Linked DNA regions of Homo sapiens: region 1 is linked to region 2. The links come from fine-mapping of genetic effects on gene expression. A gene starts in region 2. The other region holds a variant in brackets. All regions are shown on one strand. Distances are between the middles of the regions.

Region 1 (2,904 bases), 200 kb before region 2:
GACTTGAACTCCAGGTCTCAAGTGATCTCACATCTCAGCCCTTTCAGCATGAGAATTTGTCCTTCTCTTCCTGGTTGGGGATCATAATGTCTTCTTTTTTTCCCCTCTTGTTATACTATTCTTGTCCCATCCCACTTCTGACTTCACCCTTTTCTTTTGTGTGTTTTTCCTTGTCTTATGGTTTCTTCTCTTGTGTGGCTCTACTATTTTATGGCCCCTTCTCTGGCAATGTTTTAGTTTCTATTCTTGATTCCAGCTCCGTGAGTCTTTTCCTCCCACTTTCCATTCAGTTGAGAGGGAATAAGAGAGTACATTTTTACATTTAAGTCAGAGAATGTTTGTCATTCCTATTTAACTAAACTCTCATAGCACTCTTTCCTCACAAGCTGATGGTTAATTCATAGAACCTTTAGGTCTGTTGGATCCCCCTATCTAATTAGCTCGGCACAGGAGTCAGGAGCATGTAGTTTTTTTTTTTTAAATTAATTAATTTATTTTTATTATTTTTATTTTTTTAGATGGAGTCTCGCTCTGTCGTCCAGGCTGGAGTGCAGTGGCGCAATCTCGGCTCACTGCAAGCACCGTCTCCTAGGTTCACACCATTCCCCTGCCTCAGCCACTAGAGTAGCTGGGACTACAGGCACCTGCCACCACGCCCAGCTAATTTTTTTTTTGTATTGTTAGTAGAGACGGGGTTTCACCGTGTTAGCCAGGATGGTCTCGATCTCCTGACCTCGTGATCTGCCTGCCTTGGCCTCCCAAAGTGCTGGGATTACAGGCGTGAGCCACCGTGCCTGGCCCCAGGAGCATGTGGTTTTTATGTGGAGTTAGGAGTTGAAGGTGAAATAAGAGGTTCCTTAATCTGCAAGGCATTGTTGGTAGAGCTTTTGCCTTGAGAGATGACTCTGAGTGTGCTGACCAATCTGTCAAGGATGATGAGAGCTAGATTACTGTGCACCAAAGGAGAATGACAGTATCCTTTGGTGGTTTAGAGGAAGGCCAGTGTTTACACAGCAAGGGCATCAAGGCAGGCTTCATGAAAATACTCGACTTTAAGAATGAGGATGATTTCAATAGGAGGAGATTAGGGAGAATGATGCTGGTGAATTTATGGACTACGAAGGCAGAGAGAAGATGCTAAAGCAGCGTAATTATAAATGCAAAGGTTCAGATAAAAAAACCCGGGGAGCATATTTAGGAAATAAGGAGTAGTTGAGTATACAGCAGCAGGAAGAAGGAAAGCTGGGTCCAGAGTATTGAGGCCCTTATATGCTAAGCTAAGGA[G/A]TTGAGGTGCAACTTGGTGCTCATTGTTTGTCTTAGAGTTCTCACTAACCTTAAAGTTACTGAGAATTTACAAAGGAGTTGTTGAGCCTAGAGAAGCGATACAGTTTCTTATCGTTGATGTAAGATTGTACATCATTTGAACCTTAGTTTTGTGACATTAGCGTCTAACATTTATTTGTAGGTATTTCCTCTTAGTTTTTTTTTTTGAGATGGAATCTCGCTCTGTCGCCCAGGCTGGAATACAATGGTGCGATCTCGGCTCTCTGCAATGTCTGCCTCCCGGTTCAAGCGATTCTCCTGCCTCAGCCTCCCAAGTAGCTGGGATTACAGGCATACGCCACCACATCCAGCTAATTTTTGTATTTTTAGTAGAGACGGGGTTTTGCCATGTAAGTTAGGCTGGTCTCAAACTCCTGACCTCACGATCTGCCCACCTCGGCCTCCCAAAGTGCTGGGATTATAGGCGTGAGCCACTGCGCCTGCCCTCCTCTTAGTTTTTAAAGTTTTGAGATAAAATTAATGTACTATAAAATTTACCCATTTAAAGTGTATAATTCAGTGGTTTTTAGTGTATTCATAGTAATGCATCCATCACCACAATTTTAGAACATTTCAGCATCCCAGAAAGCAACACTATACTCATTAGCAGTCATTCCCTATTTCTCCCCCAGTCTTCCCAGGCCTAGGTGACTATCAGTCTACTTTCTATCTCTATGGATTGATCTGTTTTGGAACATTTCATATAAATGGAATCATACAAAATGAGGTCCTTTGTGATCAGACTCTTTAGCATGTTTTCAAAGTTCATCCATGTTGTAGCATGTATCCATACTTAATTCATTTTTATGGCTGAATAATATTTCATTGTGTTGATACAGCACATTTTGTTTATCCATTCTTCAGTTGATGAACATTTGGGTTATTTTCATTTTTTGGCTACTATGAATAATGCTTTTGTGACCATTAATGGACTTTTTTTGTATAAACTTATGTTTTTATTTTTCTTGGGTATGTACGTAATAGTGGAATGATTGGGTCATATGGTATCTCCATGCTTAACTTCTCGAGAAACTGCCAGTGTTCTCCAGAGTACCTATACTATTTTATATTTTCACCAACAGAAAATGAGAGTTCCAATTTTTCTACATCCTAACACTTTTTTTTTTTTTTTTTTTTTGAGAAGGAGTCTTGCTCTGTTGCCAGGCTGGAGTGCAGTGGCGTAATCTTAGCTCACTGCAACCTCTGCTTCCTGGGTTCAAGCAATTCTCCTGCCTCAGCCTCCCGAGTAGCTGGGACTATAGGTGCGCGCCACCACGCCCAGCTAATTTTTGTATTTTTAGTAGTGACGTGGTTTCACCATATTGGCCAGGATGGTCTCGATCTCTTGACCTCGTGATCTGCCTGCTTTGGCCTCCCAAAGTGTTGGGATTACAGGCATGAGCCACCGTGTCCGGCCTACACTTTTTTTGTTCTATTTTGTTTTGAGACTGGTCTCACTCTGTTGCCCAGGCTGGTGTGCAGTGGTGCAGTCACAACTTACTGTAGTCTTGACCTCTGGGGCTCAAGCAATCCTCCTGACTCAGCCTCCCAAGTAGCTGGGACTACAGGTGCACGCCACCA
Region 2 (2,904 bases):
CAGCGGCACCTCTCCCCAGCGCTGTGATGTTGGGCGAGTCACTGCGTCTCGGGCATTGGTGTCCTGTCAGTAAAGAGATAATAATGGCTGTACCTCGCGGGGCTGTTGTGGGCTTGGAGATGATGTCTATGAGGACCAGCATGGAGCTGGCACACAGGACATGTTGAATAAAAGGTAGCTGTGAGTCGTATGTCCTTTTTTTTTTTTTTTTAAGATGGGGTCTCGCTCTGTCACCCAGGCTGGAGTGCAGTGGTGTGATGTCAGCTCACTGCAAGCTCCGCCTCCCAGGTTCACACTATTCTGCCTCAGCCTCCCAAGTAGCTGGGACTACAGGTGCGTGCCACCATGCCCGGCTAATTTTTTTGTATTTTTAGTAGAGACGGGGTTTCACCGTGTTAGCCAGTATGGTCTTGATCTCCTGACCTCGTGATCCACCTGCCTCGGCCTCCCAAAAGTGCTGGGATTACAGGTGTGAGCTGCTGCGCCTGGCTTATGAGTCGTATGTTCTGATCCTCCCTCTTGAAGTTGCCTTCTGTGGTCTAAGGAGGGCCTGAAGGTTCAGGTAAAAACTTCAGGGTGACCTTCACTGGGGGTGAGGGCTGGATCCCAGCCTGGGCCCAAAGAGCCGTCAGCTGCCCAAGTCCCGCTGTCCATGAGAGTCACCGCAGCCCCTCCCTGGGACAAGCAAGCAGACCTGAGTCTTGTAGCTCTCTGGTCCGGACCTCTTTGCCCAGGACCTTGAGAGCTATTCCTAGCTCTCCTATGGTTACTGTCCTCCCCCAGTTCAGGGGCAGCAGGTGGGACCTGGTGCCCTGGGGATAACCCCTGTTTCTCCCATAACAGGCACAGGCAGGAAGGGACGGAAGCCCCCGCCTCTCCTGGGGCTGTCCCTCTGAGGAAAGAGTTGGTCTCCACACGCTGACCCCCCCACAAACCATGCCCTGGAGGCAGAAGAACCCCCTGCCCCTGAGTGCCAACCCACAGGCCTCATCCCTGGCCACTCAGCACCTAGCTTTGAAGGGCTGTTTTATGTGACAGCCACTCCCCTGCCTGTCGTGAGGGGGCCCGGGTGTTCATCTCAGATTGATGGATCCCTGCCATCAAGACTGGGCATTCCTGTCCAACAGGTGCCAGAGTTGCGAAAGGCCTGTGACAGGGAACTCCACTCTTCCCTTGGCTGCTGTTCTGGGACTCACCCCTGCTTTCCTTCTGCTCAGCCCCTGGCAGCAAGCTCTCCAGGCTGGGATTGCAGGGCTGGGTGGGGCAGGCCCAGCTGGTAAAGGCTGGCGAGTGCCACAGAGGTATCAGGAGCTCTAGTATAGGCTTAGGGTGCCTCATTTCCTGGACAGGTGGCTGGTTCAGGAGTGGGTGTGGAGCTTAGGTGGAGCAGAGGCGGCGGGTAGGAGGGACTTGGGACCAATTGGGACATCACATCCCTGGCTCTGGGTTAGAAAGCTGACAGTCCTTGATCCTGTGGCCACTGCCCCATCATTCCTGCTCCTGAGGACTCAGTCTCATGGCTGTGGTAAGGCCTGGCAGGGCCCTGGGTCCCTACTGGGACCCCTGGTCTCTACCTGGGGCCTAGTTAATATGTTTCTTATGGGAGCTGTGGTCTTCTCCAGGGGTAGGGAGGGGAGTTTATTGACCACAAGACCAGGGTAGCGGGCAGAAGCCAGGGGAGGAGGAGGCTTGGGGATGAGGGATCCGTCCTGAGTGTTTTCTGTCCTGGGAACGGGCTCCTGGCAGAGCTCCCTGGCACCACAGATTTGGGCCCTGGAGACTCAGAGGCTCCCAGCTGCCGCCCTGAGGCCCTGGAAGCAAGTGGCTCCTCCATGCTCCTCTGACTCAGTTGCCTGGAGTGTGAGGGCCCTGGGCTGACCCTGGTGGATGAGGCCCTCCAGCACTGCCCTGGACCTGGTTGCTCCCTGGACTTGACCTGTTAGGGTCCTTGTGGAGGCAGGTGGAAGGCCGAAAGGAAGCAGTTGGCACAGGCTTCCCTGGTCCCGGTGCGCCTGCCAGGCTGCATTCCCAGAACCAGGGGCATGGGTTTGGAGGGAGCTACCGGGGGACCATCTTCAGCCTGACCTGGCAGGACCTGGAGGACATGACAGCCTGTGAGGGGTCTGAGCTAGGAGCCGCCTCCCCTGCCCAGGAGAGAGCCCATTTCCAGGATGCTCTTCTGACCAGGGTGGAGGGAGGGTACGAGAGCAGCTCAGCCTGGGGCCCAAGGCCCTGATGTGCTACTTCCCCTCCCTCGATAGCTTATGTCCCCTGCCACCCAAGACCAGCCGGAAAGCTGCTTAGCTGGGGTGTGGGCTGGGGATGTGGGGTGGAGAGCCTAAAGGATACTAGCCCGAGAAGGTGGAAGCAGGTCTGTGTGAGGCATAAATCTGGAGCCAGCCTGCCCGGGCTCCAACCCCAATTGTGGACCTCAGGCAAGTGACTGCTTCTCTGTGCCTCAGTTTCCTTGTGGAGTGGGCCATCGTAAATAGTATCTGTGCATAAGGTGGTTGTGCGATAAATGAGTTAATGTATGCAAAGCCCTTGGCCCAGAGCCGGCGCAGAGCATTGTGTAAGTGCTGGCAGGCGTCATGATGGAGATATCATGTCTCCTCTTGTTGATTCAGGATTCTGATGAGATGGAGGATGGGCCTGGGGTTCAGGATTAGGCCTTGAGGCACTGCTCCAGCCTCCTTTGTGGCCCCTGTCACCCTTGGCTTCATCGGCCCGTAGCAGGTCTCCCCTCTCCCACCTCTGCAGGCAGAGGTGTCCAGGACCTGCCTGCTCACGGTTCGTGTCCTGCAGGCCCATCGCCTACCCTCTAAGGACCTAGGTGAGTGCGCACCGCCCTGGCCCCTGTGCTGGGCTGAGGGAGGAGGAGGGTGCTGAGGAGGAGGGTGCTGT

Which allele goes with the higher level. Alleles are on the strand shown, and positions count from the first base shown. SD is a standard deviation of normalised expression in the study named.
For the expression in subcutaneous fat of the gene that starts at base 1,450 in region 2, G is the low allele of the variant in region 1 and A is the other (large effect, 1.1 SD a copy in FUSION).

Evidence for each region. PIP is the estimated chance that this variant, and not a neighbour inherited with it, causes the effect.
Region 1: its variant is the best candidate, but not a certain one, in a credible set for the expression of PLA2G4B in subcutaneous fat (FUSION, PIP 0.59).

Annotation. Positions count from the first base shown.
Region 1 is chr15:41,639,048-41,641,951 of GRCh38, forward strand. It overlaps a transcript of MGA not described here. Among named protein-coding and RNA genes, the nearest start is that of MGA, 20 kb to the right of the region's middle. The variant G/A (reference allele first, on the strand shown) is at 1,285.
Region 2 is chr15:41,837,398-41,840,301 of GRCh38, forward strand. PLA2G4B (phospholipase A2 group IVB) reads left to right here and starts at 1,450. Exons shown (of 20, transcript NM_001114633.2): 1 at 1,450-1,525; 2 at 2,761-2,833. The coding sequence starts at 1,517. JMJD7-PLA2G4B (JMJD7-PLA2G4B readthrough) reads left to right here. Exons shown (of 25, transcript NM_005090.4): 7 at 2,761-2,833. It overlaps JMJD7 (jumonji domain containing 7), which reads left to right. Exons shown (of 8, transcript NM_001114632.2): 8 at 1-184.